Homo sapiens: one gene and its partner. The protein of the gene in region 2 interacts with the protein of the main gene of each other region in a pairwise test. Each region holds a gene or a part of one and is shown on either strand. Other genes may lie near its edges.

Region 1 (3,777 bases), on a different chromosome or scaffold from region 2:
TAGCATGAGCTCCCAAGAATCTGCCAGCACTCAGAGCCCAACCCAGGCCCCTCTTGCCCACATCAGGCCCAAGAGTGAGGCCTCCGTGCCAGCCCCACCCAGCGCTGCCTGTCTCCAGGGTCCTTTCTGCTCAGTCCTATCAGCTGACAACCATGGCAACACTCAGGGGCTTGACTAGATGATGCCCTGTCACCACCCTCTGCTCCCAAGGCCACACAGGTGAGTGTCGGGCGGGCAGGTGCAGAGGCCGGGCCCCAGGCAGTGTAGACAGTGACACCCACCCTGCCTGCGCAGCTGGTGCTCCTGCTGGCTCCCGCGCGCCTCTGCGCTTGTCAGCGCCGTGCGCAAGTGCTGCAGCTTCTCCTGGTTCTGCAGGTGCGTCATGCGCAGCTGGGCACGCAGCGCCTGGATCTCGGACAGCAGGCTGCTCCGGTCCGGCAAGCGAAGATGCTCCAGGGACTTTTCCTGCAGGTCTCCCTGGGGGCACAATGGGACAAGCAGCCTGAGCATTGGGCAGCCACCCCATGCCCCGGCCTTCCCTGCTGCCCGCCCTCAAAACCAGCTCCGCCGGGACAAGCCTGCTGAGTCTGGGATGGGTGCACAGTATCTGCTGGGCCTCAGCTCTGGGGCCTGCAGGCGTCAGGGCTGGGCTGCACTACCCTGCGTGAGGCCTGCAAGCCAGTTACTCTCAACACTAGGTTTCCTCGTGTATGCTGGCAGGAACAGGATTTCCAGTGTCCCCACGGCACCAACGCCACCCAGCCCTGCACACAGAGCACCTCTCAACCTAGGAGGGGCTACTTGGAATGGAGAACGTTTCTTTAGCCACCTATCTCAGAAAAGAGTGAGGCCTGAGGGTGCATCTCGAGCACACCTGTCCTGTTACAGCTGCAGGTGGAAAAGTGCAGCATCCTGCATGGACTGAGCGTCAACACCTGGGTAAGTGACAGCCACATTCCAGCGGTCGAGAGAAACACACAAACCGAAATTCACACACAAAACAGTCTGTGTCACCCTCTCTGCCAGGGCTGGACCCCTGGGGCAAACTGAGGCCTGGTGGCAGAGCTGACACTCACCTGCTCACGGATGATCTTCTCCAGCCTTTCGAGCAGGGAGCTGTGACCCCCCAGATCTGAGCCACTGAGTCGGGGCTGCAGCTCAACCCCCTGCATCTCCTGCTCTTTTTCAAAGGCCTCTTGCACAACCTGCAGAAGGTCCCCTCTCCAATCGGGGCACGCGGTGGGCACTTCCTAAAGGAAGAAGGAAGAAACGTGGCGTCCTCACAAATGCACCTGCATCCTTGTGCCCTAAAGTTCGCAGTGTGACTGCGTTTGGAGATGGGGCCTGCGGGAGGTGATTCAGGGTAAATGAGGCCTCTTAAGAAGAGGAAGAGACACCAGAGCTCACTCGCTGTCTCCATCATATGAGGACACAGCACGGAGACGCTGTCCGCAAACCAGGAAGGGCGCCTACACCAGAATCCAACCCTGTGGGCACCCTGATGCCACAACAGGTGAAATCAATGTCTGCTGTTTAAGCCCCCTGGTCTGGGGTGTTCTGTTACGGCAGCTGAGCAGACTGACAGCCGTTCAAACAGAAATGACCCTGACAGAAGAGAAGACACACACTGCCCAGGGCCATTCAAGGCACGAGAAGCAAAGGCTGCCATCATGAGCACAGAAGAGACTGAAAAAGACGATAAAGTAAGGTCAGGAAAATGTCAGCAAAGCTCCTTCCCTCTTTTCCTGCTGCTGTGCCTTCAAGGCCCAGGGCCTGGAGGGGACCTAAGGCTGCAAGGGGCTACCCGCTGGTCCCCAGGGGCAGCGTGCAGCACCAATGAGCCTCCTGAATGCCAGCCAGGCTGCCGCTCGCACACAACCAGGGCCTGCTGGAGGGGCGAGCGGAGGCGGGTGGGGCTGACCCTCCCACCGGCTCTCCATGGCACCAGCACACCCTGTGCGTTCCAGGCACAGGGAGAAAGCCCTTCCCTCCCTCACAAAGCTTTGATCCCAGTCAGAGGCAGGCACAGGGGCAGGACAGGGTGGGCACGGAGATGGGAGGGAGCGTGATGGGAGTTGGCACCCACTCCACAACCTCCACAAGCCCTGGTGATGGAAGCAGACAGGCAGGGAGATGGGGAGGACTTGGGGAAAAGTGGGGTGCGGGGTCGACAGCACAGAGGTGAGGCCCTGAGGTCCAGTTGCTGGGGCTTGGGGTGTGGAGGGGGAGGTAGGAGAGACCCAAGGGGAGGAATGAGGCCGGAGGGCAAGTCACCCGAGTGGCAGGAGGAGAGGCCCTGGGGGACAAGTGCTGGAATGGGCCGAGTCCGCAGGGCCACATGGCCAGGAGGGACCACTCTCAGCCTCCCCGCAGGCTCACACAGGGCACAGGCCTGAAAGCCCTGAGCCCTTCTGCCCCCCACACACCTCCACGTCCCGCAGGGAACCTGCCCCGAGAGCCTGCGCTGGCTGTGGGAGATGGGAAGGCCTCCCCAGGGTTCTTGGACCTCAGTCTTTTTGGCCGTGCTAAAAAAAATCCTAGGCCAGGCACGGTGGCTCATGCCTGTAATCCCAGCACTTTGGGAGGCTGAGGCGGGTGGATCACAAGGTCTGGAGTTCAAGACCAGCCTAGCTAAGATGGTGAAAGCCCGTCTCTACTAAAAATACAAAAATTAGCTGGGCATGGTGGCATGCACCTGTAATCCCAGCTACTCGGGAGGCTGAGGCAGAGAACTGCTTGACCCGGGGTGGTGGAGGTTGCAGTGAGCCGAGTCTCAAAAAAAAAAAAAAAAAAAAAAAAAAAGAAAGAAATCCTAGTGTCCACGTGGCCCTAAGGACGCGGCCATTACCACAAGCTCCTTAAATCCTTTGGAAAAGAAGTGTGTGAAGGGCAAAATAAACCTGCGTCTTTCCCCCATGGAGCGAGATGTCCTGTATCTCGTCTTCCTTCCGGGGTGGGTGTGGCTCGCCGCTTGGGGGTGCAAGGCCTTCTGACAGCGCCAGGATCTGGTGGCTCTCGTCACGCACCATCTGCAGTAAAGCCTGTGGCGGGAAAGCGCGTCAGAAGGGAGTTGCCTGCCACCCCACACAGCCACGCTCTACACCACCTGCGGCCCCGAGCTGCCGCCAGGACTCTGTGAAGGGCGGGCAGCTGTGGAGAGGGAGGGCACCGCCTCGGCTTCGTACAGGCGGCACCCACTTCTCAAGCTACAAGGTTTTCAAGCCCACCTCTCCCGACCTTCAGAGAGACAACACGGAAGCCAGGCTTGGAGTGAATTTCTCTATAAGCCACTCCAAAGATGGCCCCGCCACTTCCTCCACTCCACCTGCTCCCTGAGGGGGACACCGTCCCCCGCCTAAGCCTGGACAAAGCTCAGGGCAGGGCTTTAGGCCAATGTCCACAGCGAGATCACAAACATATCACACACTCCCTGCCCACCTGGGACGCTACGAGAAGGCCACACGATGGCCACCCAGGAGGCCTCTGTGCGTGGTCCGGCTGAGGCCAGTGCCGACCACCAGCGTGGGGTGAAGCTGCCTGTGCTGGGCACGGGGAGCAGAGAAAACCATCCCCAGCAGGCCCTGCCCACAGGTCTGTGAACACGAGGCGGCTGCTTTATCCCACCGATTACGCAGCAGCTGGTGTCCGGACACACACTTGACTGTCTCGCCAGAGAGGCTGAGGGGTAAGCAGACGGCCCTATGGAGAAGCTGGTGTCACGACCAGCCTAGAGCCCAGAGCCCAGAGGCTCAGCGCGGTCACCACCACATGAGCACA
Region 2 (3,777 bases):
GGCAACGGAGCAAATGGACAGGTTCAGGCAAAGTTCTTTTCTTTAGAAGCCCACTCTGAAGACTTTCATCTTGGAGAGGAGAGCAGGAAAGGTGTGGAACAATAACAGGAAAGCAGACTCGACCAGACTCGACACGGCTCTCAAGTTGAAGTCTTCCACCGGTCCAGCACAATACACAGAGATGTTTCATCCCTTTCATCTCTCCTGTTCCAAATGACCTATGATGTGTGCCCCCCATACTTGAAATAAGAAGGCAATCTTCTAATTCTTACTATAGAATAAGTGTCCTAACTGATCGTGAATGCAAGAAATACTGAAGAAAAAATCTGTTTGACATAATCTCTTTTGATTAACACATGGAACATTTAGAAAGGAGCAGGTATGAGCCATAAGATTCCAGAAACTGAAGTGTTTTGTTTTGTTTCGTTTTTGTTTTTGTTTTTTGAGATGGAGTCTCACTCTGTCGCCAGGCTGGAGTGCAGTGGCGCGATCTCGGCTCACTGCAACCTCCGCCTCCCAGGTTCAAGCAATTCTCCTGCCTTAGCCTCCTGAATAGCTGAGACTACAGGCGTGCACCACCACACCCAGCTGATTTTTTTATTTTTATTAGAGACAGAGTTTCACAATGTTGGCCAGGATGGTCTCGATCTCTTGACCTCATGATCCGGCCACCTTGGCCTCCCAAAGTGTTGGGATTACAGGCGTGAGCCACCACACCTGGCCTGTTTTGTTTTTGAGACATGGTCTCACTCTGTTGCCCAGGCAGGAGTACAGTGGCACGATCTCAGCTCACTGCAACCTCCGCCTCCCAGGTTCAAGCGATTCTAGTGACTCAGCCTCTTGAGTAGCTGGGATCACAGGCAGGCACCACCACACCCGGCTAATTTTTTTTTGTATTTTAGTAGAGATGGGTTTTCACCATGTTGCCCAAGCTGCTCTTGTACTCCTGAGCTTAAGCGATCTGCCCACCTCGACCTCCCAAAGTGCTGGGATTACAAGCATGAGCCACCATGCCCAGCCTGAAACTGAACAGTTTATCATTATAACCCAGACCAATACAATCTGTTTAATTCACAGGAAGGTGTGGTGGCTCATGCCTGTAATCCTAGTACTTTAGGAAGCCAAGGCAGGAGAATCACTTGAGGCCAGGAGTTCAAGACCAGCCTGGGTAACACAGTGAGACCCTGCTCTATTTAATTAAAAGAAAAATTATAGTTTCAAAAAAAAAATCTACTGGCCAGGAGCGGTGGCTCACGCCTGTAATCCCAGCACTTTGGGAGGCCGAGGCGGACGGATCACCTGAGGTCAGGAGTTTGAGGCCAGCCTTACCAACATGGTGAAACCCCATCTCTACTAAAAATACAAAAATCAGCAGGGCATGGTGGCGTGCGCCTGTAATTCCGCTACTCAGGAGGCTGAGGCACAAGAATTGCTTGAACCCGGGAGGCAGATGTTGCAGTGAGCCGAGATTGTGCCACTGCACTGCAGCCTGGGCGACAGAGCAAGACTCCATCTCAAAAAAAAAAAAAAAATTAAATTAAATTAAATTTTCTAAAAATCTATTTAATTCACAATTTCTTCTCGTAAGGAAACATTTTGTAGTTGGCCAGAAGACAATATATGGGTTGAGAGATCTTTCATCTTTAAAAGAAAAATTAAAAGAAAGGTAAACGACTGTTACAATTAGCCAAAATCTAACCTAAACCCCAGTCAAAACTGATACACATTTTCCCCATGCTTAAAACAGTGACAAAAACCTGTAAATCACTTTATTTGATAGAAAAGAGTTAACCTAAGTTAAGTAAATAAACCATCATTTCTTATGATGTAGCCAGTTCATAATACACAAATATGCAAAATAAAAATTTTTTTCAATCCAGCTAGTGATCAGTAGATTTAATAAGTCACCATTTTGTAACCACCAAATTCAGTTTGTTTGCTTGTTTGTTTTAAAAAAAAACTTTTAAAATGTTGATCCTCACTGAGGGCACATTTGCACTATTACAGGTACGTGTACTGATACATTGCTAAGAAAAGAGTAAATTGGTGCAGCCCTTTTGGAAAAAGTTGGCACCAGACATCAAGAATTCTAAAAATGTTTATACTCTGACATGTTCATGTCACCCTGAGAATATATCTTAAAGACCACAAAGTGTGTATAATTATGGCAACCTTATGTTCCAGATTTTCTAAGAAGGTGTTCACTGTAAATAATTGTGTTCTTTTCAATAAAGGCAAATCAGTAAGTTAGTAACTAAGTTTGAGAATAATGGAAGTCATCCATATCATAGAAAAACAAAGAAAACGGGTTCTGCATGGGGTCAAACATGCACAGAAGTGTTCTGGTTTCTGTTTGAAATGGAGAGTTGAGGAAAAAAACTCAAACTCACCACATATTAACTTTTTACAAGATGGAACTTGGTTCAATCCATTATTCCCTCCACAGTTGCTGAGCTGCCTCTGTAGGGCCCCAGGCACCATGCCTATTCTGGAGACATGGTGATGAAAAGGCAAATCTTTCTTAAATGCAACAGGCTCCTCTCCCCAGCCCGCAGCAGCACCCAGACATGCCAGTGCCCAGACCTTATTTTTCTTGTTGAATCTTCTCACCACCCACACACAGGTCTCCATGGTACAGCATGACAGCTCTTCCTATAATTCTGATATAAATCCTCCTTTTATCCAGAGTCTTTGGTCACAAACCGTAATACATACATGTGAAATGTTCCCAAATCTTGAGTAGACACTCAAGATTATGCCTGTGAGAAAACTCCTTTCCATGAAAACACAGAAGAAACTACTCTCTTTTCTTATCAAACCCCCGAAGTACCCACCAGGGCATTCGGCATGGGAAATCGGGTTAGAACTGCCGCAAGGCACTGCTCCCTCAGACAGCCCACCACCTGTGGCTGGCATAACGGCCCTGGACTTGCTGCCTGCTTTCCCTCTGTGCCACTAGGCACCCACCCCTGCAGTCACCCCAGCTCCCGAGGCATCACACCATCCACAGACCACAGGGTTAGTCCTCCTGAGGTCCCTCTGTGTGTTATGACACCACACCTAACCCGGCACAGAAACCAGGCTGAACACCCTGACAGTCTCCTGTGGCCCATGAAGATTGGGGGGGCCGCTGGGGGTTAGGGGAAGAGGAGAGATGGAAGGAAGTTACTAATTAAGAGTGATCTTGAAAGCCTCGGGTGCTAAGGGTCTTTTTTCTTTTTACCCCTGTCCTGAGTATTCCCTTATATCCTTCCCTCAAAGGCCAAAGCTAGAGACAGCAGATACGTTTTTATGCAATTGGACCTCAATGCTTCTCGAAATATGCGAATGAACAACTTTCTTGAATGTCTTACCCCACCACTCTTCCTCTACAGAGAAAGTGAAACCTCGTTTTTTTAATTCTTGCTGAAAACACTGCTATTTTAACTTGAAATTTGTTCTTTCTTGTTTTAGATAATGAATTAGTTCTACCTTTCCTGCTTTAGATAATCAATCTGGGAACTCAATGTAAAAATTACATCAAAGGCAAATAAAAAGTAAGGTATTTCAGAAGCTGAATAAGTAAAGGACATTTGCAGACGTCTCTTCCTTTTCATTTGAAAACTCACCTAAAAATTATTTTAAAATTCTCTGTTGACAACTTCCCTAATTGAAGCTAACTTCTTGAAAGGAACAAAAATAAGACATGCATTTGCTATAATGAACATGATAGACTCCAGCAACTTTCATTTTAAATGTTTATATAGAAATTATGCTTAAAGGCCAGGCACGGTGGCT

Evidence for each region. Proteins that work in one complex are often made in the same cells at the same time.
Region 1: the proteins of CYTH1 (region 2) and PCNT interact in a two-hybrid assay, tested with the Homo sapiens proteins (one large-scale study listed by BioGRID and IntAct).

What each region holds. Positions count from the first base shown.
Region 1 is NC_000021.9:46,425,095-46,428,871, reverse strand, and holds part of PCNT (pericentrin), read right to left. Parts: intron 3,042-3,777; coding exon 2,901-3,041; intron 1,251-2,900; coding exon 1,077-1,250; intron 478-1,076; coding exon 282-477; intron 1-281. UniProt on the Homo sapiens protein: Integral component of the filamentous matrix of the centrosome involved in the initial establishment of organized microtubule arrays in both mitosis and meiosis. Plays a role, together with DISC1, in the microtubule network formation.
Region 2 is NC_000017.11:78,772,113-78,775,889, forward strand, and holds part of CYTH1 (cytohesin-1), read right to left. Parts: intron 1-3,777. UniProt on the Homo sapiens protein: Promotes guanine-nucleotide exchange on ARF1, ARF5 and ARF6. Promotes the activation of ARF factors through replacement of GDP with GTP.